7 linked regions of the Homo sapiens genome follow. The protein of the gene in region 3 purifies or fractionates together with the protein of the main gene of each other region. This does not show direct contact. Each region holds a gene or a part of one and is shown on either strand. Other genes may lie near its edges.

What was found.
Region 1: the proteins of LPAR1 (region 3) and COLEC12 purify together in Homo sapiens (affinity purification with mass spectrometry; 3 studies listed by BioGRID and IntAct, with this or other methods). This does not show direct contact.
Region 2: the proteins of LPAR1 (region 3) and LEMD3 purify together in Homo sapiens (affinity purification with mass spectrometry; 4 studies listed by BioGRID and IntAct, with this or other methods). This does not show direct contact.
Region 4: the proteins of LPAR1 (region 3) and ZDHHC18 purify together in Homo sapiens (affinity purification with mass spectrometry; 3 studies listed by BioGRID and IntAct, with this or other methods). This does not show direct contact.
Region 5: the proteins of LPAR1 (region 3) and TMEM87A purify together in Homo sapiens (affinity purification with mass spectrometry; 4 studies listed by BioGRID and IntAct, with this or other methods). This does not show direct contact.
Region 6: the proteins of LPAR1 (region 3) and CKAP4 purify together in Homo sapiens (affinity purification with mass spectrometry; 3 studies listed by BioGRID and IntAct, with this or other methods). This does not show direct contact.
Region 7: the proteins of LPAR1 (region 3) and PIGO purify together in Homo sapiens (affinity purification with mass spectrometry; 3 studies listed by BioGRID and IntAct, with this or other methods). This does not show direct contact.

The regions. Positions count from the first base shown.
Region 1 is NC_000018.10:343,702-347,201, reverse strand, and holds part of COLEC12 (collectin-12), read left to right. Parts: coding exon 1-907; intron 908-3,500. UniProt on the Homo sapiens protein: Scavenger receptor that displays several functions associated with host defense. Promotes binding and phagocytosis of Gram-positive, Gram-negative bacteria and yeast.
Region 2 is NC_000012.12:65,245,719-65,248,855, forward strand, and holds the end of LEMD3 (inner nuclear membrane protein Man1), read left to right. Parts: coding exon 1-56; intron 57-142; coding exon 143-221; intron 222-443; coding exon 444-607; 3' UTR 608-2,637; downstream 2,638-3,137.
Region 3 is NC_000009.12:110,937,471-110,940,970, reverse strand, and holds part of LPAR1 (lysophosphatidic acid receptor 1), read left to right. Parts: exon of another isoform or gene 1-1,059; intron 1,060-3,500.
Region 4 is NC_000001.11:26,850,688-26,854,187, forward strand, and holds part of ZDHHC18 (palmitoyltransferase ZDHHC18), read left to right. Parts: intron 1-441; coding exon 442-544; intron 545-2,065; coding exon 2,066-2,178; intron 2,179-3,038; coding exon 3,039-3,156; 3' UTR 3,157-3,500. UniProt on the Homo sapiens protein: Palmitoyltransferase that catalyzes the addition of palmitate onto various protein substrates, such as CGAS, HRAS and LCK. Acts as a negative regulator of the cGAS-STING pathway be mediating palmitoylation and inactivation of CGAS.
Region 5 is NC_000015.10:42,235,434-42,238,933, reverse strand, and holds part of TMEM87A (transmembrane protein 87A isoform 1 precursor), read left to right. Parts: intron 1-1,318; coding exon 1,319-1,502; intron 1,503-2,514; coding exon 2,515-2,614; intron 2,615-3,500. UniProt on the Homo sapiens protein: Potential monoatomic ion channel gated by mechanical force, implicated in normal touch sensitivity through the generation of mechanically activated currents.
Region 6 is NC_000012.12:106,245,221-106,249,494, forward strand, and holds the start of CKAP4 (cytoskeleton-associated protein 4), read right to left. Parts: upstream 2,801-4,274; 5' UTR 2,632-2,800; coding exon 2,149-2,631; intron 1-2,148. UniProt on the Homo sapiens protein: Mediates the anchoring of the endoplasmic reticulum to microtubules. High-affinity epithelial cell surface receptor for the FZD8-related low molecular weight sialoglycopeptide APF/antiproliferative factor.
Region 7 is NC_000009.12:35,093,792-35,097,847, reverse strand, and holds the start of PIGO (GPI ethanolamine phosphate transferase 3, catalytic subunit), read left to right. Parts: upstream 1-1,256; 5' UTR 1,257-1,693; intron 1,694-1,871; exon of another isoform or gene 1,872-1,969; intron 1,970-2,281; 5' UTR 2,282-2,282; coding exon 2,283-2,793; intron 2,794-3,488; coding exon 3,489-3,632; intron 3,633-3,823; coding exon 3,824-3,947; intron 3,948-4,056.

The sequences.
Region 1 (3,500 bases), on a different chromosome or scaffold from region 3:
GCGAGCGGGGATGCTCTGGTGGACAGGCAGAGTCAATTGAAAGAAACTTTGGAGAATAACTCTTTCCTCATCACCACTGTAAACAAAACCCTCCAGGCGTATAATGGCTATGTCACGAATCTGCAGCAAGATACCAGCGTGCTCCAGGGCAATCTGCAGAACCAAATGTATTCTCATAATGTGGTCATCATGAACCTCAACAACCTGAACCTGACCCAGGTGCAGCAGAGGAACCTCATCACGAATCTGCAGCGGTCTGTGGATGACACAAGCCAGGCTATCCAGCGAATCAAGAACGACTTTCAAAATCTGCAGCAGGTTTTTCTTCAAGCCAAGAAGGACACGGATTGGCTGAAGGAGAAAGTGCAGAGCTTGCAGACGCTGGCTGCCAACAACTCTGCGTTGGCCAAAGCCAACAACGACACCCTGGAGGATATGAACAGCCAGCTCAACTCATTCACAGGTCAGATGGAGAACATCACCACTATCTCTCAAGCCAACGAGCAGAACCTGAAAGACCTGCAGGACTTACACAAAGATGCAGAGAATAGAACAGCCATCAAGTTCAACCAACTGGAGGAACGCTTCCAGCTCTTTGAGACGGATATTGTGAACATCATTAGCAATATCAGTTACACAGCCCACCACCTGCGGACGCTGACCAGCAATCTAAATGAAGTCAGGACCACTTGCACAGATACCCTTACCAAACACACAGATGATCTGACCTCCTTGAATAATACCCTGGCCAACATCCGTTTGGATTCTGTTTCTCTCAGGATGCAACAAGATTTGATGAGGTCGAGGTTAGACACTGAAGTAGCCAACTTATCAGTGATTATGGAAGAAATGAAGCTAGTAGACTCCAAGCATGGTCAGCTCATCAAGAATTTTACAATACTACAAGGTAAGTCAAAATTCTGAATTTGTATTTGTATTAGTTGTTTATTGCTGCATAACAAGTTACTCTAAAACTTGGCAATTTAAAACAATAAATATTCATCATCTCATAGTTTTTGTGGACCAGGAATTCAAGAGCAGCTTAGCTAGATGGTCCTGACTCACTGTTTTTCATGAGGTTGTGTCAAGATCTCAGCCAGAGCTGCAGTCATCTGAAGGCTTGACTGTGGCTGGAGGGTCTGCTACTTAAGTGGCCTGTTCACATAGCTCTTGGCAGGAGGCCTCAGTTCCTTGCTGTGTGAAATTGCTTGAGTGTCCTCACAATGTGGCAGCTGGCTGCTGCCAGAACAAGGAATTCAAGAGAGAGAACAAGAAGGAAGATACCATGACATACTAGCCTCAGAAGCCACACACCATCACATCCACTTCATTCTGTTTCTTAGAAATAAGTCACTAAGTCCAGCCCACACTCAATGCAAGTGGAATTAAGTTCCACATCTTGAAAAGAAGTGTAACTAAGAATCTGTGGACAGTACTTAAAGGGACTCCATTAATTATTTGTTGAGTGAAAGGTTGGTTAATTTGAATTTTCTTGGTCCTTGAGCTATTTCAATGCAATATAAATCAAGCTCCTCTGAAAGCAAGATCAAGTCTTTTGGGTCACAAAGCTACCATTAAGGGAGTTACATGTCATGAGTAGATGAATGGTTGGCCATCACAGTAACACAGAGGTCACAGTAAGGTCACAGAGGAAGGAAACGATGTGTCTTGCTTATAAAATCTGAGTTTTGGTAGGTGTGCTGGCTCATGCCTGTAATCTTAACACTTTCGGAGGCTGAGGTGGGAGGATCGCTTGAGACCAGGAGTTTGAGACCAGCCTGGGCAACATAGCAATATCCCATCTCCTAAATAAACAAATAAATGAATGAATACATACGTATAATCTGAATTTTACTGTTATCCAGATCATCCATATAAATTAAAAGTCCTTGACTCAGACTAAGTCCACAGTTGAAGAATTGTAGCATCATATATTAACAGTATTTTCCAGTCACAAACTATTTTCACAGGTTTTAAGTTGAAAGTACTGGTGGAAGATGCTGTGCTCAGCAGTCTGGGGTATACAAATGAAACCAACGGTCCTCACCCTTAGGGAGTTTAACATAAAGAGAATTTCAGGGCATCAGAAGATGGGCTGTAAGCAAACATTCAAGGGGAAGGGATTACACAAGGGCCTGAGTCACTAGGGGCCACCTTGGGGTATGTCCCCCACACTGGTCTAATAATCAAGGGTAAAGAGTGGTAGTTAATAAGCCCCTGTGAGGCTGAAGGCAGATCCGGATAGCAGATGGCAGGACTCTGTTCAATAGCTTTGTCAGTGACTAGCATGGATGACCTGCTAAAGCAATGCTTGTGTGACTTGAAACTGTATATGCCAGCCAGTGGCTGATAGACTCATAATCCACAATGATCTAGAGAGGCCAGGATAGTATCAAGATGTCAATCAAATGAAGTAGATAGGAATACATGTAAAATCCTGCTCATAAATGGATGAGACAAAACAGATAAATGTTGATGGGAAGGCATGGCTGGAAGGAAGTGTGCATGAAGCATGGGGATTTTAGTTGACTGGAAGCAGTGAAATATGTCTTCCAGGGAAGGGAATGTGTTCCTTGACTGTGGACTGTGTTAAGAAAAAGGGAAGTAACATCTGACTCTGTTCAGTATGCCAAGACCACCTCTGGAAGATAATGTTTACTTTGAGTAGCCCCTTTCAAAAGAGACATTCCCAGACCAGCATGCTCAGAAAAGCAACATCAGAATGATAGGGGCTAGAAACCACGTACTGTGAGGAAGGGTTGAGGACCTGGGAGCTTTCACCCCTAGGAGAGCCTGTTCAGTGGAGAACAAGACAGCCATCTGCACTTATTTAAAGTTGCTCTGTCTGAGGAATGCCACTGGGTGAAACAAGACTAGTGGGTGTTCACTAAGGGAAGATCAATTTTGGTTTTACAGAATGTTCCTCATAAAATGGGTATTAGCTGAAAATATAATGGCTCCCCTACTCAATCAGGATGCCCCAGCTCTGGAGGGGCTGGACAGTTGCAGGTCAGGGATATGGTAGGTGTGAGTCTTACTCTGAAAAAGGGGTAGCCCTTCAAATGATTTAAAAAAAAATTCTTAGACAATCTTATCATGGTATTCTGGATATTTTCTAGTTATTAATTTTATAGTTTTATTATTTCATTAATTTAATTGTTACCTTGTCTTCAGTTATTTAGTTTATAGACAGCGTGGCTTATCAGCCAAGTAAGGACATGAAAAGCTAGTATTTGAAGGTGAGACCCTGAGTGTTTAAGTTAATGTTTCTATTGTTAGGATTCTTTTATCAGCTAGTATTGAAAGTGAATGTACTGAGCACTTTTCACCAACGTCCCAATGAATCCTGACAGCAGCTCTATGAAGCAGCTACTTACAATGTCATCGCCAGTTTATAGACGAGGAAATTAAGGCTTAGAAGGTTTGAGTAACTTGCTGAGGTTTACACAAGTAAAAAGTAGCTCAGTGGAATCCGAGCCCAGGCCGTCTGGTGCCAAACC
Region 2 (3,137 bases), on a different chromosome or scaffold from region 3:
AATGCAGTGATAATGATGGCATTGTTCACATTGCAGTAGACAAAAATTCACGTGAGGTAAAGTAACTTTTGGTATTGAATTTCATGTTTTGGATTTGTTGCTATTAAACTAAGACTATTTTCTTTCTTTTTTAATATCACAGGGTTGTGTATATGTTAAATGTCTGTCTCCAGAATATGCTGGAAAGGCTTTTAAAGCATTGCATGGCTCTTGGTTTGATGGTAAGAAATTTGAGTACTACAAACATTTTGAAAAGATAGTTATAGTTTAATTTTAAACTATACCAGATTTCAAATAAAAGAATTTAGGTTAGCATTTTTTTGAGTAATAATTTTAGATGACTTTATTTATGTTTTGTGCTCATATGTCTTTTACCACAGTTAATTTTCTGCAAATATTAAACAGTTTTACTGATCTAAAATATTATTTTTATCTTACAACAGGGAAATTGGTTACAGTAAAATATTTACGACTAGATAGATACCACCATCGCTTTCCCCAGGCTCTCACTTCCAACACTCCATTGAAGCCATCAAATAAACATATGAACTCCATGTCTCATCTTCGTCTTCGGACTGGCCTAACCAATTCTCAAGGAAGTTCCTGAAAAGATTTTCTTCCATTTCTAAGACTGTTATTTACAATAGGAAAATTCCTGTTTGGCTTTTTGTCTTCCTTTTTAAATGCTTTTTGTATGTAATATTTTTATTGATGAATACATCTCTGAACGTTCCAGAAGTCTTAAGGTTCCAAAGGGATTTAGCAGTGAGGCAGCAATGCTGAGTAGGTAGGATAATTATTTCATTCAGTTTTTGGAGCTCAGTTAAGCCAATACATTTAAAGTTTTGCATGAGGAACACTGACTTTATTAAGCATTTTCAGATGTGGTGGTTGTATTTTTGCCCCAAGAAGTGTTTGGATAACCACACAAAAGCATGATGAAAAGGCTTCTTGTAGTCCCATAATTTCTTGTGAACTAATGTTGTGAATTTTTGTATACAGTCACCTGCATAGTTCCTACAGGCTAATGTGGTAAAACTGTTGATTTCCCAATTTAACCTTAGGTTTCTGTTGCTTATAAGCGATTCATTTGCTACGGCTGGAATATGGGAAAATTAATTTGGGCTTAGTGGTTACAAATATGTGTAAGTGGATGTATATGTACTTAAACTGGCTTTGTATATATGTATAAATGCTGGTGGTGGTGAAAGTAGTCTTGTTTTATGAGGATGTCTGCATTAAAGCAGTAAAATAAGCTTTCCATTTTATTCATAATCTAATGTGTGTGTATATATGTATGTGTGTATGTGTGTGTATATATAGATGTATATATATACACACACAGAGATATATACATATGGCTGTACTTTTGCATAGATCAAACAGCCAAACACCTGGAAGTATTAGATACAAGTTTAAAATATCTTTTATAGGTTTTATATAAAAATGTCTGAGTATGATTTTGTGTGAAAGTTCTGATACCAGTTGTAATAGAGTCAAATTTATGTGAGCAATAAAGAAGAAATTGGCAGATATTGGAAAAATATTTTGTGAAAAGCTGTATTTATTATAAATACTAGGGCCATGACATAGTACCATTGGGGTTAAGTCATTTTCCCAATCTATTTATAATTTAATGATATGTTAGTGCCTCTGTTATATGTCAAGTTTAAAGCAGGGCACATTGTTGCAGCAAAATGTGTATTTGACAAATTATACTTGCAATTTTGGGTCATGAAAGTTTGCAATATAGTAAATGCACGATTGACTGTTGCTTTGTGCCTCAGTATTTAATTTGTTTCAGTAAACTTACTTTATTACTGTTTATGATTTCAGATAAAAATAGTTGCTGAGTAAATTTTACTTGTAATCTACAATTGGCTTTTTAAAAATAACCTGTTGATATATAATTGTCAGTCCAAATGAATATGTGAAACAGCTGGAATTGTACAAATTTTGGTTGTATTTAAAGCTCAGTTTCCTTTTTGTTTTATTGTATGCGTTGGGTTTGCAGCATGAACTTGCACAGATAATGCACGTTTTCTGGTTAAGTAAACATGATGCACACTATTCTGTAACAGAAAGCCCTATTGTGCCTTACCTGTGTGCTTTTGTGGGCACCTTGTTTATGAAGAATAAAAAATGATTTGTTATCTGAAGAGAATAAATTTTAAATTCTCAGTTTATGTCTCAGATGCTAACGTGTGAAAATATAAATATATATAATATATAAAGTAACCAGTCTTCCTGTATTTTATGTGCATCATAGTGATTTATCTGAGCTTAGTGACCCCCATCTTGTAACCTGTTGCAAGAGTGAATGTAAAAAATAGTTGTGGCATTTTAAAAGGTCGCCTTTGATGCAGATGCATCTTTTTCTTGCTTCTAAAACATATTTCATGTAAACATTGTACATTTATTATTGTAATATATACTATTATGCAGCTTATTTTACCTGAAACTGTTAAGCCGACCAAGATCCCTCCCTGCAAGACAGATGGGAATGTGTATAATAACTAGGTATTTGAGAAGTTCTGAAGTTTGATGTAATCTGTTACTTGTCCTGTTAAAAAAAGGAAAAAATTCTAATTAAAAATTTATTAGTTTTTTTTTATGTGTCTTGGCTTTTTAAAAACATTTTAAGTGCCCTGTGTCTGTATTTATTTTTTTACCAGTGAAAATAGGTGTCTTTAGTTTAAATGTTTGACAGCCTGAATATTTGTGCTTATAAAGATGAATGAAGACCATAAAGTTAATTTTAACTATCCTTCCCCTCAGCATTTTATTTTTCCTTATGAAAATGTCTTCATCCAACTTTCAAGTATTTGAACCAAAATGGGGCAAGAATGTCAATCAGCTACATCACAAAGCATTAGTTCTGCTAGATACTTTTTCACAGCAAGACTTTCTTAAAAAGGAAGCATTTCTTTTTCTTTTAACATTCTGACTTGAATTCTATTGCATTATAAACTATTAACAGTTCATAGGCTAGTTACTTTACATAGCATTGGTTTAGACTTTTTGATATGTTAAGTAAAAAGAAGACTAGTCAGTCATGTGGTACACTTATTGATTACTAACAAATGCCAAGTACTGTTATGTGTTAGGGATACAAAGATGAAAAACACATGACCGAA
Region 3 (3,500 bases):
AGGTAGTATATCAAGGTTTTATATAGATTTACTGAACAAAACAGATTGGAATTAATGATATTCTCTGACAGTCATCTTCATGAAAACTTCCTTATTTTCTATTAATTTTCTATTTGTAGTAGTGGAGGTTAATTCATATTTCAAGGTGAAGAGCAAGATTTGTAGACTCAAATACCTTCTGCTTTTAAATAAGCATTGTTTTTCTTGGATGAAAAATTCATAGTAGTGATCAAGAAGAATATATTCACTTATGTGTGTAGAAGGTAGTTAAAGAGCACCTACTATGTTCTACGCTCTGTGCTGGCTCCATGAAAAGGACAGATACAGACATTTCCTTTGGAGCTGAGAGTAGAGTGAGAGTTTTTTAAAATAATTACCCAATGGAATTATACATTCTCCATAGACTATATTCAGGTTAACGTTTGATCACATTAAAAAATCTTTTTTGAAAACCTTTTATCATTTCATCTTTCCCTATGGAAATTGAAAAAAAACATTTTATCACCTCCTCTTTCCCCACAGAAATTCAATGGAAAGTTCCTATAATTCTCTGTGCTCCAATTTATATAGCATTTTTGGGTGAATGTAACATGGGATTATGTGGCTCCTCTGAAACTCTGGGAATTACCTTAATTTTAGCCACTGGAAGGAGACAGGGTCCTGCTGATCATTATATAAAGTAGTATTCAGATTGATGCATAGGTCTCGTCTGTTTTGGTTAGGATGACTGCATCATGGACATCATTTTCAGCTATACTCATTGTTGACCCTCTTGTAGACCTGTGAGAATAGCAACTAAGCCTTGGGATCACTGACACACCTAAAACCCTGCCTAACTAACTGAAACACTGAGGACCCCATCACCTCAGATATGAGATTGTCTTATTGCATCCAATGAAGATTAGTAGAACTACAAAAATGGTTTCTCTGTATGTTTATTAACAGGACCTTAAGCACACCTGTGCCACAAGGCCACATTTTCCATGATGTGGATAAAACACATCTTTGTTTACCATGGATGCTATTTTTGTATGAAATAAAACATGAGACATTAAATAACATGAGACTTTTTTCCTGTATTGACTCAAATATTTATTTGCTGATGACCTAAATGTTGGTTGACATTTTTTATATGCATGAACTTTTTCTATTACGACAAGTGCTACTCATAGTTTGCAGAATTGCCAGCAGCAAATGACTACTGAACTTGGACTATTAACCTGCCAAGTTCTTGTTTTAATTTTGACCTTTGTATAATATCTTGTGTATTCCAGTGTGCAATGTACTGAATGATTCACATACTTTTGTGCCTCTTTGGGTTGTTTTTCAGGTTGAAATAATCATTTTGAGGCTATAGGAGCTAGTGTTTCAGTGTACATTTGCCCTAAATGCCACTTTCCCATGCCCAACTACTACCACTGCACAACCACTAACTTTAAAATAACAGAAATAATATTTAAACTAGTATACTCCACAAAGATCGAATGCAGTTGACATCTCTGGAATAAAGAGCATGATTTTTAAAGCTGTGAGATGGAAGAACTTTCAGAACATGGAAAACCCCGTCACGGTGATAGGTGAAGGTATTTGGTGAAGAAAGATGGGAATAAGATTGTAATATAGGAAACAGAAATTAAATGGACCGTAGCCTTTTTGAGAAAAGTAGCAAGAATAAGAGAATGGGCAGGATGTGGGCAGGGAGTGGTTGGAAAGTTTAGAATGGGGAAGTCACAATCCTAACAGATGTTTTTCAAGGCGTGGTGCCTAATGCCATTCCTACAGTATGCTCCCCTATTTGAATTGTAAGTGTCCATCCTTAGATAGGCACGGTTACATGGGAGACATGGGTTGGTCTTGTCATAATGTAGGCAAACCCCAAAATTGGGGCTCAGCCTGGGGGAGTTCTTGGCTCTGCCCAGGAAAGAATTCAAGAGTGAACCAACAGTGAAAGAAAGCAAGTTTGTTAGCGTAACAGTGTACAGCCAAGTGACCACTCCAAAGGCAGAGCAGGGCTATCTCATAGGCAGGGTAGCACAGAACAGCACTAATGGATTGCTGGCTAGTTATATTTATACCCATTCTTTTTTCTTTTTCTTTGAGACAGGGTCTTGCTGTATCACCCAGGCTGGAGTGCAGTGGCATGATCTTGGCTCATTGTAGCCTGGACCTCCTAGGCTCCAGCAGTTCTCCCACTTCAGCCTCTCAATTAGCTGAGATTACAGGTGCATACCACCACACCCAGCTACCCAGATTTTTTTTTTTCTTTTTTCTTTTTTTTTTGTAGAGATGGGGTTTTGTCATGTTGCCCAGGCTGGTCTTGAGCTTCTGGGTTCCAGTGATCTTCCTGCCTTGGCCTCCCAAAATGCTGGGATTGCAGGCATAAGCCACCATGCCTGGGCCCCCACTCTTAATGCTAAATATAATTAAACAGGTTATTCATGAACTTCCTGGAAAAGGGGTGGGGAGTTCCTGAAACCATGTAAGGTTAACTTCCAAGTCATTGCCATTGCATTTGTAAACCGTCATGGTGCTGGTAGGAATGTCTAATGCAAATGTATTATGATTCCTGGTCCTTGCTGGTTTGGATTGGTTTCTTTGCTACATCCTGTTTTGATCAGCAGCGTTGTGAAAACAAGTCCTGCTGGTCTCCCACTTCAGTAGGAACAAGAATTCTGGTCTACTCGAAGTTCTTCTCTTTGTAAATTAGTCCATTGATAATCTGGTTATTTTACTTTAGTTTGTGTACATTTGGTTTTTAGTATTTGTCTTCACTGCCAGATTGCCAGGTTTGTGAGGGCAGGCAGGATTGTAATGATTGTTTGTTTTCTCCACGTTGCCACATTGCCTGTCACGGCTATCTGGTACAAAGTAGGTAGTCAATAAATGCTGAGGGAATGCATGTGATGACAAAACCAAGTTTCTCTGCCTTCAAAACTGAAGACCAGAGCCGTAGTGAATTCACTACAGTAAATGCCACTTTATTCAGCTATGTGGGAGCCAAACCTAGCGACACCTTTATGTTCTATGCCTTCTAAAATACAACAGCCTGGAAAACTCCTGGCTACAATGGGTGCTCAGTAAATAATATGTTTGTTTTACTTCCATTTATTCTGGGAATGATTACTCAGTTTCCATTTTCACTTCATCAAAATGATCCCTGGGTTTTAGACCTATTCAGTCTTCATGATCAAAAGAAGAATTTGTTGGTCAGCAACTGACTTGTTATGAGTCAAGTTATATTAAAATAAAGTCATCTTTGAGATTAATAATGGGCAATACCAATGGCTGGTTTTTAAGCATGATCTTGTATTAAGCTGCTTTTGAGTGAGTACTGGATCTTAATAATTATTTTTAGTTGTGAAATACTTATTTGGCATAAATCATGTGCTACCTTAGAAATTAGTATTTGTAAATTACAACCCTATGGCGTATAGGTACTGTTATTGATTTGTTATCCTTATTTTCCAGTTGATAAAAACTGAGGTAAGGAGAGGTTAGGT
Region 4 (3,500 bases), on a different chromosome or scaffold from region 3:
AGAAGGGAACAGCGTACAGCTCACATGTGTCCTCCAGAATCCAACATGCCAGCTCTTCTGTTCACACCCAGGCAAGAGCTGATCCTAAATGGGGCATTGTGGGGCCGGGGGTTCCTCGTCTTCAGGGGCCTGGAAAAGAGTATGTCCCTTAAGATGCCAAGCTCCCTGGACCGTGTCGTGCCCAAGGCTCTTTGTGATTGGAACCCTCAGTTTTCTCTGCCGTCCATCACCCTGACCTTGTCTGGCTCTTGAGTGGGGTCCTGACCCTTCCGAGGGGCCCAGGAGGTGATCCTGCTAAGAAGTGGGGACTGGGCCACAGGAAGGTTCCAAAACTTCTCAGCTCTCTGGGGAAACAGCTCCATGGAAGGATAGGTGAGACAGGCCAGGTGTGGCTGGGAGGCTCCCCACCCTCCACCCATTGAAGTCCTTAACTGCCCTCACCGTGCTGGAGTTGGTGATCTGCTTCTTCTCCATCTGGTCCATTCTGGGCCTCTCAGGGTTTCACACGTACCTCGTCGCCTCCAACCTGACTACTAATGAAGACGTGAGTAAACCTGGAGCCACCCCTCATTCTAGGGCAGCGCCCTCAGGAGGAGGCAGGGCTGAGGGAGCCTGGGGCAGCCAAGCACAGTCCTGACTCACGGACTGCTGGGATAATGCCTTTTAAGCAGCCAGATGCCTCCCAGTCATCTCAGCTTGGCCCTGGTGGGTCCGATGCAGGCTTCTGACACCTCCACATGCTTCATTCTCTCAGTGCAGGCTCCCAAGGTCCCAGGTTGCTTTTCTCCACAGCCCTGCAGGAGGCAGTACTCACACCACAGCACGCATGATGTTTGGCTGGCACATGACCGCTTACAGAATTCTTTCAGTTCCCGTCATTTCTTTGGGTCCTTTTGCCAAGCCTGAGGCAGAAAGGACAGGGATGTTTTTTCCCCATTCGATGACTGAGAGACATGTCCCATGTCTGAGAGGTCACACAGCTGGGAGGGGACAGAGCCAAGGTTGGTGCCCAGTCACAGGTATGCGCTCCCTCTTCCACACTGCCCCTGTCAGCAGCAAAGCCGTGACTATTCTCAAGGTGGCACTGGCCTGTCCTGGCTGCCCCTCTCAATATGCACGCCTGGGGGAGACAGGGCACAGGCCAGTGGGCTCCATTGACCTTCCCTGCCTGCCACCCTGCAGACTGCCATCAACAAGCATGTTTGATGTGCCCAGTCCTAGGCCAGACCTGACTTCTCCTCCCCATCCTCCAAACACTAAAAAGTAAATGAGAGCATCTGTTTCAGGGCCCACCATCTGATACTTACCAGCAACCCATCCTCCAACAGAAAATACATTCCCAGACCTCATCCTCTCATTCAGGGAAACAAAACTTCACACATGACAGGGCGTTGTGTGCCTGGTGATCAGTGAGAACAGAAATGCCATCAGCCAGTATCTCCCGCAGTAGCTTCTTGGGTGCCAGTTCTGCAGCACATTACCAGAGGTTAAAGAGAAAGGAGTGTGTGGCCAAATAAGTGTAGAAAACTCTAGGTTAAAGTCAAGGTATTCTTTATTGCTAAACTCTCCAGTGCCTTCCATAGCTGACTTCACAGAGCTAGAGAATCTGGCAAGAATTAATCTAATGCCCTAGCAATGTCATCTGAGAATTAGTATTATTTTCCCTGTTTTCCAAATGAGGACTCAGGCTCAGCGAAGTGGTGATCTGTCCAGGTAACGTAGCCAGTGAGTAGCAGGGCCGGGGCTCACAGGCAGGTCAGCCCTCACCCTGTGCCCCTGCGCTACCCTCCTTCAGAAGTGGCTGGCCGGAGAAGGGAGGAGTCATCCGAAACGTTTCCTCTGGATGCTTCTCTTGGGCTCTGCTCTGTCATCTCCTCTTTGGGGCCTCCTGATCTCTGCCAGGGGTCCCCCACATTCTCATTGAATGGCCCACATGAAAGACATGTCGCCTTCTGTAACCAGAATTGGTTTCGGAATTGTCCAGTTGTCCCCAGCCTCTAGACCTGCCTCCTAGAAAAGTGAAGCAAAAGGAGGTACTTGACCTAGGCCTCCTTCCTGCTTGCAGATCAAAGGCTCGTGGTCCAGCAAGAGGGGCGGTGAGGCCTCTGTCAACCCCTACAGCCATAAAAGTATTATCACCAACTGCTGTGCTGTGCTCTGTGGCCCCCTACCTCCCAGGTAAGTGAGCGGGGTGCGGAAGAGGGGTAACAGGGCCATGCCTGGCCAGTGATCAAAGTGTTCCTGGATATCAGCCGACCTCCCCCTACACCCTAGATGCCCTCCGTCCACTACCCCCTGGAGGGCATTTGTCATGTGACGGAATTCCATGGAGAATTGTTATTTAATCACGTGCTCATTGTAGAAAAAAAAAATTAAGTACAAAACGTAAAACAGAGGAGCATTGGATATGACATGTAATTCTACTCCCCGGGGGTAGCCACCATGACTGTTTCAGCCATGTTTGAATGACACTGCCCTTCCGGTTGCCCACTGCCTGGACTGGGTGGCGACTCCATCCTCTCCTGGCAGTAGGAACCCTGGGGACTCAGCCCTGCTGGGTCACTCCCTGTTCATCCTGACACCAGGGGGCACCAGAGTTCCAGAACGGGGATTACATTGCTGTGGGTACTGCTAAGACAAGTCATTCCCACACAGTCATGTCACCTACCCCACCCAGTATCCCTGTCACCCAGCCTGCCTAGAGGGGAAGGGAACATAGGAATTTCATAGTCATCAAATACCTATTCATCCTTGCTTTCCTCCCTCACCTGCAGCCTGGCTTCTTGGCAGCCAGACAGGTGGGCCAGTTGGAATTAATAGTGAATAAATTCTGTGGCCAAAAGCCAGGTGGCCAGAGGGCAGAGAGAGGCCTGCCAGAGGTAAGAGTCTTGGGCCCCCAGATGGGCAGCAGCTCTCCTTTCCTCAGCCTTTCTCAGCCTGGGCCTTTCCTTGGCTGAGATAGACTCTGCCGTCCAACCCCTGGCCTAGAGCCTCAGTGTTGGGCAGAGCCCTCATGTGTCTCCCTTGTGTTTTGGAAGCCTAATTGACCGGAGGGGATTTGTGCAGTCCGACACCGTGTTGCCCTCACCCATCAGAAGCGATGAGCCAGCCTGCAGAGCCAAGCCTGATGCCAGCATGGTAGGAGGCCACCCCTGACCACGGCTCAGTACTTGCCACCTGCTGGCCTGTCTGACCCTCCGCACTCACCTGCCGGGACCCTCCCTATTCCATCCAAGGGAAGCAGAACTGCCAAAGACTCAAGTCTTTTCATATTTATTTCCCATCCTGCGTGGCTTTCCCTGAACTGTTCCGTGGCTGTGCCCTCTGCTCCCCAAACCCAGGTTCCCACAGCCTTGGGCCCTAGGTACCCCAGCTGATCAGTGCCAGGAGAGACCAGAGCCTCTGGAGGCTACCCAGGGGACCACACCAAGTCCTTGCCTGTGCCGGGCGAGCCCTGTGTGAGTGAGGCTGTGAACTGAGCGTGAGGCCTCCCAGGTGGG
Region 5 (3,500 bases), on a different chromosome or scaffold from region 3:
TTCTTTGTTCATGATTATTCTCTTCTTCCTTTCCCTTTAATAGTTTTCCCGTTTTGTTGTGTTTCCTTGCCTCTAGATGTATCCTAATCATCATGCCATTTTTCTTCTTCAGTGTTGTCTTCATCTATATAATTTTAGATCGTGAGCTGAAATAGCTCCTTCTTTAAAAAAAAAAAAAAAAAAAGAGAGTCTCACTCTGTCTCCCAGGCTGGAGTGCAGTGGCATGATAATGGATAATGGCTCACTGCAGCCTTAAACTCCAGGCTGAAGCTACCCTCCACCTCAGCCTCCCAAGCAGCTAGGACAACAGGCGTGTGCCACTATGCCTGGCTAATTTTTATTTTATTTTATTATTTTTTATCTTGAAACGTAGTCTCACTCTGTCACCCAGACTGGAGTGGAATGGCACGATCTTGGCTCAATGCAACCTCCAGCTCCTGGGTTCAAGCGATTCTCCTGCCTCAGCCTCCTGAGTAGCTGGGACTACAGGTGCGCACCACCATGCCTGGCTAATTTTTGTATTTTTAGTAGAGACGGGGTTTCACCATGTTTTGGCCAGGCTGGTCTTGAACTCCTGACCTCAAGTAATCTGCCCATCTCTGCCTCCCAAATTGCTGGTATTACAGGCATGAGCCACCATGCCTGGCCTAATTTTTATTTTTTGTAGGGACAGAGTCTTGCTATGTTGCCTAGACTGGCCTTGAACTCATGACCTCAAGCAGTCCTCCTGCCTCGGCTTCCCAAAGCACTATTGCAGGTGTGAATTACCACGCCTGACCAGAAAAAGCTCTTTTACTATAGGAGAGCAGGCTGAGTGCTCTCTATATATACCATATATGTGTCTGTGTGTATAATAGAGAGCACCTTTTATATGGTATACATATGTGATACATACATACACACACACACACACACACACACACACACATATATATATATACATATGAGAGCATTCGCTCTTGAGGACAAGTTCATATGTAGTCTTCTCTGCTCAAGACAAGATAATGCTTTCATATTAGTTAATGTTAAGCTCCAAAGGAAGAATTATTTCTTAACTAGAAGGTAGAATATATTTTTGTAACTTGTTAAGACTGTATATTGATTCAGGACAGGCGCTGTGGCTTATGCCTGTAATCCCAACACTTTGGGAGGCAGAGATGGGAGGATTGCTTGAGTCCAGAAGTTCAAGACCATCCTAGGCAACATAGCAAATCCCCATCTCTTAAAAAAAAAAAAAAAGTATATATTGATTCTAAATCTACAGACTTGGCTCTTGGCCCTAATTCTCCTTTTTATCTTTTACCCAATTTGATAACAGTTTTTCATGGTGATGTGTATTGTATATGTCCTGTTTGGTGTTCTGTGGCTGGCATGGTCTGCCTGCTACTGGAGAGATCTCCTGAGAATTCAGTTTTGGATTGGTGCTGTCATCTTCCTGGGAATGCTTGAGAAAGCTGTCTTCTATGCGGAATTTCAGAATATCCGATACAAAGGAGAATCTGGTAAGTAACCAGAAAATCTTTGCCAGTTCGAGTGGTTGGAAGGTGAGATGTATGAAAATATTCCTAAGGTCAGCAGTCACTACATAGGCTTAACTTTTCAATTACTTAATTATTACAATATCTTAAGCAGAATCACTATGACTCTGACTTTTGTTTTTAATCTTATGAGTTCAGTGATGTAAGACTAATTTTACTGAAATATGCTCACAAAAGTCACAACAGTAGTGACCATTTTGGGAATGATTATTAACATCAAATCTCAATTTCTGTTGATTTCTAAGGCACCATTATACATCTAAGAAAAAAAGTAAAGCTGTCAATTTAATTGTAAAATGTCACTGATTGTAAGACACACCTTGATTTAAAAAACCTCAAAATGTGGTGGGAAAGTGCATCTAACTGATAAAATATAGTCATATCAAGAAAATAGGAGAGTGCTTATGGTTTAGTAAGGTGAACTGGTAATGACAGAAGTTGTTTTATACTGTAGTTTTTTGTGATTGCTTCAGTTTTTTCTTGTCAGACCATTTAATTTAGTCATAATTATTATTGTGAGATAAACTGATAAGATTTTCCCTGGTCTTTGAAAGGTCTTGAAAATAGTAGATCTGAAAAAAGTTAAGCTGTACATGCCAACAAGCGTGTACACGAGTGTGTTTTGTGCTTTTCTATGTGTAGCTGTATTTCACAGTTTTTAAAAATGGGGGAAATTGTCTCGATGCTACAAACTGTCCATATAGGGTGAGGTATTCTGTTAAAGTTTTAGTGAATTTGGGGCCAGGTCGGGGAGGGAGCTGAGTTGAGCGCACCCAGATTGCCATACATAGACATGAGTAAGATTGTGAGTGGCATCAGCTTGTATCCTGTAAAAACTGTGGAAGAGGTATTCTATTTTAGCAGGACTAATATCAATGCTTATTCTGAAGAGTGTAGAAAGCAGCAGTCTAGTATTGGCATCTGGCCTGTTGCCAAACCTAGATTATGGTGCCATTTCTTCCCTTCTTTTTCATAGTCCAGGGTGCTTTGATCCTTGCAGAGCTGCTTTCAGCAGTGAAACGCTCACTGGCTCGAACCCTGGTCATCATAGTCAGTCTGGGATATGGCATCGTCAAGTAAGTATTAACTTCCTGTATGGAAGAGCAAATTAAAATGCTGATTAAATTAAAACAGTATTGCATGTTCCCAATGTAGTAGTTCTGAAATAGTTGATAAAAGAAATAATTCTGAAACAAGAAAGGTATTTGAAATTTTGTAGCATTGTAAATGTTGGGAAAATGTGTTTCATTTTCCATACTTCCAAATATATTCCATACTTCCAAATATATTCCATACTTCCAAGTCCAAATGTATTCCATACTTCCAAATCCAAATGTATTCCATACTTCCGAATATATTTCCATACTTCCAAAATATTTTTTGCAAATTAGATTTTTTATGGGAAACGCATTCTTGCTGTAACTGTCTGAAAATATTTTTCTATCCAAAAAATTTTATTTTTATTGAGGAGTGTCTTCTATAGGCATTCTTTGAGGCATTGTTCTAGGCCCTGGGGATATGGCAAGTAAACAGAAGATTTTGAGCTTACATTTGTGGAGGGAGGGGACAAAGACAAAATTTAAGTGGGTAAAATATTTTAATATGTCAGTGGAAAGTGCAGTGGAGCAGGTAATGCAGGAGCTAGAGCTTGCAGTTGTACATAGGGTGATCAAGGAGGGCTTCACTTAATGACATTTAAGCAGAGACTTCAAGGAGGTGAGGGAGCTATATGTATACCCAAGGGAAGAGATGCTGAATTGAGATCAGATTCTATATATATTTTGAAGGTGGAACCAGTGGAATTTGCTGATGGATCAGATGTATGATAGGAAAGAGAAGAGGAATTAAGGATGATGCCAATTGTTTTGATCTGATAAAATGGCAGGATGGAATTGAAGATTTACTGAGTTCAGGAAGACCTTAGGTGAAATAAGTGTGGAGCAGGGGCAAGATTGGAGTTGA
Region 6 (4,274 bases), on a different chromosome or scaffold from region 3:
CGGGATACAGGCGAAATTCCACACCCTCCCTCTTCTGAACTTTCACAGGAGTTACCCTCAACTGACACCTCCTTATGCGCTGCACAAGTGATTCGTGTCTTTTGCTCCTTCATACCCTCCCACAAAGCCTACACAGAGCCATGCAACTGTCAGACTTTAATAAATATTATGATTGACTAGTAAGTAGGAGGATGAAAGAGAAGAAACAGAGGCTAGTCATTATACTCCAGCAGTATGTCTATTTTTTAAGAATGGTTTGACATTCAGGATAGGCAAAGCAGCACTGCCTACTTAATTCCCTTAGAAAAGTCACCTCCCTTGGCCTGCAGCGTTTAGCAGGCTGACTCATTCCAGTTGCTCTGCCAGTCTTTTTTTTTTTTTTTTTTTTTTTTGAGACGGAGTCTCACTCTGTTGCCCCGGCTGGGGTGCACTGGCAGGATTTCCGCTCACTGCAACCTCCACCTCCCGGGTTCAAGCAATTCTCCTGCCTCAACCTCCTGAGTAGCTGGGACTACAGGCATGTGCCACCACACCCCGCTAATTTTTGTATTTTTAGTAGACACAGGGTTTCACCATGTTGGCCAGGCTGCTCTCAAACTTCTGACCTCAGGTGATCCGCCCGCCTCGGCCTCCTACAGTGCCGGGATTACAGGCGTGAGCCACCACGCCCGGCCGTGCTCTGCCAGTCTTAAGAGGAAATTCCTGGTCCTGCACACTCAACAAAAGCAGAGAGCAACTTGGCAGGACAGACAGCATGCTGGGAAAAGGAGGCAGTGGCTCCGGGATCAGAAGTGGCGGGATTTTTTGTTTCAGTCTTGCAACCAACTTTCATTGAGCAATGACATAGTGGAGGGCGAATAAGATCAAAGGGGCTGTACTTGGTATGGAAAAACCACAGAAGGGTGGAAGCTAAGCACCTTCGCCTTGAGAGTTGGGTCCATCCATACCTGAAATGGACCCCTGTGGACCCTTGACGAACAGGGCAGTGGCCTAGACATTCTCGTGTGTCTGTCACTCACCAGCTGGGGACTTTGTCAACTCATTCCTCTGTCTAAACCTCAATGTTCTGCTCTGGGAAATGAAATCAAAACTGTTAGTCCTCCCTCCCAGGGTAGTTATAAGAATTAGATAATATGTGAGTGAGTAAGCATTCTAAACACCATATAAATGTGGCTAGAAGTATTATTCACCAGTATGATCTAGTATTTTTGGCCCTCCTCTTCCCCTAAAGCGGAAGTAGGGCCGGGCGCAGTGGCTCACGCCTGTAATCCCAGCACTTTGGGAGGCCGAGGCAGGCGGATCACTTGAGGTCAGAAGTTCGAGACCAGCCTGGCCAATACGGTGAAACTTTGTCTCTACTACTAATAAAAAATTAGCTGGGTATGGTGGCACATGTCTGTAATCCCAGCTACTCAGGAGGCTGAGGCAGGAGAATCGCTGGAACCTGGGAGGCAGAGGTTGCAGTGAGCTGAGATCGTACCACTGCACTCCAGCCTGGGCGACAGAGCCAGACTCCCTCTCAAAAGAAAACCCAAAAAAGCTGAAGTAGGACTACGTCAAAGGCCCACCTGGGCAGGCTGGTCCAATACAGGACAAGGGACCTAAAGATAGATGGTATTTCATTTGGACCTGCAAATGAGTAAGAATGCCAGCTCCGGGTCTATTAAAAACCCCGCTCGGATGTCTCCCACAGGCAGAGCTGAGGTGGGGCCTTGCCTGAGGCTTCCAGGGATGCGCTGGCTTCCCTTCCAACCTCCTTTTCAGACAGCTCTGCCCATTCAGCGGTTCCTAATGCAGAAAGAATGGGCTCCCCGGAGCCTGCCGGCTTCCTTACAGGTCACCGCTAATGCCCTGTGACAGGCCCTTGGCCCACCCTGCCAGGCGGGCCTGGGCATCCTCGCGGCGGCCCATCCCTCGGGGCCGATTCCTCCGCAGCCATTAACAAAGGGGGTCTGGGGACTGCCTCGGAACTAGGGGGCCGCGTGGAGTGGGATGTCTAGGCCAGGGCCCGCCAAGGAGGAGCGGCCGGCTCCCGCCTCCGGGCCTGGGCAGGCAGCGCTAGGGGCCGGTCGGGAAGCACGAAGGAGCCCGGCCGTGGGTCCGGAGGCCGCAGTCGATGGGGACAGTTGCGGGGCCGGGGGTACCCACCTTCTGCTCGACGCCCTGCAAGCCCTGGCCCAGCTCCTCCCTCTGCCGGGAGAAGTCCTGGTGGCTGCGCCGGACCTGCTGGACCTCCTCCAGGACGTGGTGGACGCACCAGCCCGAGAAAGCGGCCGCCGCCACCAGGGCGAGGTAGAAGAGAAAGTTGAGCGCCCTGCCGAGCCTGCGCGAGCAGGACGCCGAGGACGAGGCGGCGGCGGCGGCAGCGGCGGCGGAGGCGGAGGAGGAGGAGGAGGACTTGCCGCCGCCGCCGCCGCCGCCGCGGTGGCCGCCCTTGCCGTGCGCCTGGTTCTGCGGGTGCTGCTGCGGGTGCTGCTGCGGGTGCGGCGCGGGCGGCGGCGGCGGCTGCTGCGGCGCCGGCGGCGGCTTCTTCGCCACGTCATCCGCGCCGCCCGACGGGTGGGCACCCTTCTCCGAGGGGCTCGCGGCGCCGTGGCCGCCCTTGGAGCCCCTTTGTTTGGCCGAGGGCATGGCGGGCGCGGCGGCGGCTCGGGCCGCGGGCTGGGAGGCGAGCGAGCGCGGCGCGCGGCCCGGGAAACTTGCAGGGGCTCCCCCGGGACTGGGCGAGCGGCACGCGGGCGCTGCTGGCGTCGGAGCGGCGAGAGGACGCGCGGCCGGGGAAGGAGGCCGGGCCGAGGAGGCGGGAGGAGGGGGCCTGCCTCCGCCGCCGCGGCGCCGACCCCGCCTCCCGGTAAGGGAGGCCGAGCGAGCCGAGCCGGGAGAGCTTGCCACGCACGCCGGCCCGGCGGCCCCTCCTCCCCGCCGCCACGACCCCGGAGAGGGAGGGCCGGGCGGGGTCTACGGGGGCCGGGAAGCCGGCGCGGGGGTGGCTGGGCGCGGGGCGGGGTCCCGGCGGGGTCTGCGGAGGCCGGGGTGGGCACCGAGGTGGCCGCGAGGGGAGGGGAGAAGAGCGGAGCGGAGGGGAGGGGACGCGGCCGAGGTGGGGCTGGCGGCCCGGCGGGTTCCACGCAGGCTGGGGGCGGAGGGCCAGATCGACCCCAGCCGGGGCGGCCGAGCAGGGTCCACGGGGGTCGGGGATGGGCGGCCAGGCGGGGTCGGAGGGACGAAAGCCGGGGTGAACCTGCGCCGCGGGCCAAGCGCGACCCCCTCCCTTCCCGACCTGTGCGGAGAGGAGAGAAATGAAGGGGGGCGCCCAAGGAGCCCTGGCCCCGGGAGTGGGAGTCAGCGGGTGGGAACAGATCGCCCTTCCTTTCCGCTGGGAATTGGGGGACTCCCCCTGCTTTCACTCTCCCAGCCCGCCATGGGGTTGGGCCTTGTCCTTTGCCTTGGGTTTGAAGGCGGAGACAAAAAAGGCTGTCCAAAATCCAGCCAGCTTGGGAGGCATGGTTGATGCGAGTTAGCAAAGATTCTCGACTGTGGTAAGTCTGTTCAAGGGGACGCATTCACCAAGTGTCCCCGTTAGCCAAGTTAGCCTGCTGTGGCCAGCTCTTTACTTTTTCCCCCCGAAGCCCCTTCAGCTCTGTTTTCTCTTTCGGGGTCATGAAGTTTGTCCACGGCCCCTACTCCTGACAGCCTCTGGGATGGGTGCTGCGGAGGCAGCAGCAGCCACACAGAAAGAGGCAGATCAGCGTTGTCACCCCTACTTTTGTAAAAGGAAATCTGGTATTGCCAGGCTGTGTGGTTAGCGACTCACATATGTTCTCGAAATCTCACAAAAGCCCTGTGAGGTAGAAATTATTTTACCCATTTTATAGGAAGGAAATTGAGACTGAGCGAGCCGGCTTCGGATTGGCTCAAGGTCACATATAGTCATCATTCGAACCTCACTCAGTCTGCTTCTTTCTGAAGTCTGTGCAGCTTAATCACTTCAGAATGGGAAGGAAACGGGGGCCCAGGGAAGTTAAGCAACTTGCCCACTCACTCAGTCTAATTGGTGCCGGGGCAGGGACAGAACTCACTCAATTCCACTGCTTTCCCCAGTTTCTGGTGAGTGATGTGTGCCTGGCACTGTGTGCACCTGGCACTGTGTGTAGTAGGAATGCTGTTTCTTCTGTCTGTAACCTCCTCCCAGTTCTGTAAACAAAGACAAAACCATGCCCTGCCCTTAAAGCCTATAGGGTTCAAATGCCACCTCTTTGATGATGCTTTCCCTA
Region 7 (4,056 bases), about 76 Mb from region 3:
AATATGAAGGTGATGGAGATCCATTTCGGCATCGGGAACTGAAGCTGACAGAGGAGATGGCAAATGCAAAGGTCCTGAGGCAGAACTGCTGTGGATGGAACAGAGTTAGGGAAGCAAAGAAGTGGCAGCTAGATGAATCAGAAGGGGAAGAGGCAGATAGTGTGCAGGGCCATGTAGAGCCAATGCAAGAACTTTTACTCTGAGATGAGAAACCAGTGGACGGGTTTTGTTTCTTTTTGAGACAGAGTCTTGCTCTGTTGCCTAGGCTGGAGTGCAGTAGCACGATCTCAGCTCACTGTAGCCTCTGCCTCCTGGCTTCAAGCAATTGTCCAGTCTCAGCCTCCTCAGTAGCTGGGACTACAGGTACACATCGCCACGCCTGGCTAAATTTTGTAATTTTTAGTAGAGTTGGGGTTTCAGCATGTTGGCCAGGCTGGTCTCCAATTCCTGACTTCAACTGATTCTCCAGCCTCAGCCTCCCAAAGTGCTGGGCTTACAGGTGTGAGTCATCGTGCCTGGCATTTTTTTTTTTTTTTTTGAGAGGGAGTCTTGCTCTGTTGCCCAGGCTGGAGTGCAGTGGTGCAATCTCGGCTCACTGCAACCTCTGCCTCCTGGGTTCGAGTGATTCTCCTGCCTCAGCCTCCCAGGTATCTGGGATCACAGGCGCCCGCCACCACTCCCGGGTAACTTTTGTATTTTCAGTAGAGACGGCGTTTCGTCATATTGGCCGGGCTGGTCTTGAACTCCTGACCTTAGGTGATCCACCTGCCTTGACCTCCCAAAGTGCTGGGATTACAGGTGTGAACCACTGGGCCCAGCCTCCCCTCCTCCACTCCGAAGGATTATTTGCTTAATTATTCAGTCGTAAGATTTAGTTACAGGCTTTGAAAGGAGGAGTAATGAAATCTCAGTTGGACTCAGCTAAGCAAAAAAGGGAAAATAAGTATTATCTCCATTTTACAGATGAGGTAATGCCTAATGATGACAATATGTGCGGCCAAGCTAGGATTCAAGTCAAGTTTGACTCCAGCAGCCGTGCTCTTAGTCGTAACCATGAATGGACAGTGGTTCCCTGAACTCTTCCTCCAGCTTGGTCCCCTGTCCCCAATTTTCAATTACTAAATATCCCATCAAACTGGGGCCAGCCCCACGCTCCTGGCCAAACTTCCACCGAGGTGCCGGCAGATGGCGATGGAGCCACCGACGGGCCACTCTGTCTGGCGCACGCATCTCTGTGCTGCCAGGTCGCAGGCGCCGCCGCCGCCGCACTTCCGGGTGCCATTGCAGGTGAGCCAGGGTCTCCCGAGAACCTCACCCCCCGGTATTCCCCTCACCCTGAAGTAAGGGAGTCTCCCTCTTCCCCTCAGCTCCTAACCAAGGTGCTCAGTACCGCGGCTAGGGTGCCCAGCGGGAGGCTGGGTAGTTACCGGAGGAGGCAGAGCCGGTCGCACGCCTGGGTCCCAGCGGAGGCCCAGTCGACTCTCGACCCGGGCCCCAGCCTCCTTGCGTGGCGAAGGTCGTGCCTCAGGTCTCCTGGCGAACCTGGCCGCCCGGAAGCGGAGAGTGACTCCTCCCCTTCGTCCCCTCGGTGCCCGCCAGGCGGCGCCGTCGGCTGGGCCCGGATTCCCCTGCGGCTTCGATCCCTTTCCACTGGGTATTGAGATTGGCGAGGGGAGAGGCGCAGAAACGGCGTGTAAGAGAGCCTGACTACCAATTGGAATAAGTTTCCCTCCTGACTGTTCACATGTACAGGCAGCATTAGCATTTCCTGCCTGTACATGTGAACGTTCCTATGCTCTACCCCTCGAAGATCCTGATTCAGTAGATCTGGGGTGGGACCTCATGAAACGGCGTCTCCCTCTGTTGTCCAGACTCTAGTGCAGTGGTTCAATCTCGGCTCACTGCAACCTCCGCCTCCCCGATTCAAGCGATTCTCCTGCGTCAGCCTCCCCAGTAGCTGAGACTACAGGTGCCCGCCACCCATTTTTGTATTTTTAGTAGGGACGGGGTTTCGCCATTTTGGCCAGGCTGGTCTCGAACTCCTCACCTCAGGTGATCCGCCCGCCTCGGCCTCCCAAAGTGCTGGGATTACAGGCGTGAGCCACCATGCCCAGCCTGGAAATAGGAGGAGAGTAATATTGCGAGGGGTTGGCTGTGAAATGGTTTATCTCCAGGAAGGTTTCCGGGAGGAAGTGATTCTAGCTGGGCTTGTATTCAGGGACCAGAATATCCACTGGTTCTTTGCCCCACAGTAATGAATTTACTTCCCCACCCCTATCAGGATGCAGAAAGCCTCAGTGTTGCTCTTCCTGGCCTGGGTCTGCTTCCTCTTCTACGCTGGCATTGCCCTCTTCACCAGTGGCTTCCTGCTCACCCGTTTGGAGCTCACCAACCATAGCAGCTGCCAAGAGCCCCCAGGCCCTGGGTCCCTGCCATGGGGGAGCCAAGGGAAACCTGGGGCCTGCTGGATGGCTTCCCGATTTTCGCGGGTTGTGTTGGTGCTGATAGATGCTCTGCGATTTGACTTCGCCCAGCCCCAGCATTCACACGTGCCTAGAGAGCCTCCTGTCTCCCTACCCTTCCTGGGCAAACTAAGCTCCTTGCAGAGGATCCTGGAGATTCAGCCCCACCATGCCCGGCTCTACCGATCTCAGGTTGACCCTCCTACCACCACCATGCAGCGCCTCAAGGCCCTCACCACTGGCTCACTGCCTACCTTTATTGATGCTGGTAGTAACTTCGCCAGCCACGCCATAGTGGAAGACAATCTCATTAAGCAGCTCACCAGTGCAGGTCAGTGTGGGCCACTTTGAAGGCCAGAAGTACCTTGGCAAATTTCTTCAAAATTTGAAGTCAGGGAGTCAGACCTTTGGGTGCCCAGATGCACACTTGATTATGGTGTAGGGGGACAGAGGAGAAGAAAGAGGCCAGGGCCCTGCTGGTAGGGAGCTCAGTTTGGGGGACAGAGGAGAAGAAAGAGGCCAGGGCCCTGCTGGTAGGGAGCTCAGTTTGGGAGACAGAGGAGAAGGGATCTGGGCTTTGTTCCTATGAAGCTTCTAATCTGAATGGAGTGTAAGTTTTATTCTTGGAGACCTCTCAGTAAAAGGGAGAAGGGAAGAAGAGAAGATGTGGATCTTGGCTTGCAAGTGTGGAGAAGAAAGCAGAGAAATACAGGCCCTGTTCATTCACTGACTGGGAAGAAGCAGGATACACCCAGGAAAAACAACTCAGTAGAGATACCCAGAGACAGAACTAGGAGAGCATTTTGTAGGAAGGATAAGTGTGAGGTCTGGGTGGAGTACGGTTATCAGGGAAAGCTTCCTGGTGGAAAATGTTAGGCCCTGAAGGATAAGGATTGCTGTATGGAATTGCTGTACTTTAGGTTGCATGGTTGGGACTTCTGATGGGTCTTTAAAGGGCCTCTTTTCCTCTTTTCTCCTAACCCTGACGTTTGCTCAGGCTCTGACTTCTCTTTCATGTCCCTGCAGGAAGGCGTGTAGTCTTCATGGGAGATGATACCTGGAAAGACCTTTTCCCTGGTGCTTTCTCCAAAGCTTTCTTCTTCCCATCCTTCAATGTCAGAGACCTAGACACAGTGGACAATGGCATCCTGGAACACCTCTACCCCACCAGTGAGCATGGGGCCAGAGCACTTAGTTCTAAGACTGGGAGCTGGGGAGAACTGCTTTAGTCCACAAATTCTGAGCCACCTATGGGTGTAACAGCCTGGGCTTGTATCCCTGGACATAGAGGAGTGTCAAAGCCTGGCTGGGGTTGAGGAGTGGGTCTTAGTCTTCTGTGCTCAGTGTTCTCCCCTTCACAGTGGACAGTGGTGAATGGGACGTGCTGATTGCTCACTTCCTGGGTGTGGACCACTGTGGCCACAAGCATGGCCCTCACCACCCTGAAATGGCCAAGAAACTTAGCCAGATGGACCAGGTGATCCAGTGAGTGTGGGGTATTGGCTGGGGGAGTGGGTTTGTGTCTGAGAATCTCGAAGAAGCTCTTATCTTAGAGCTTCTTTCCTGGCTGAATTCTGTCTTCTCTAGGCCTTCT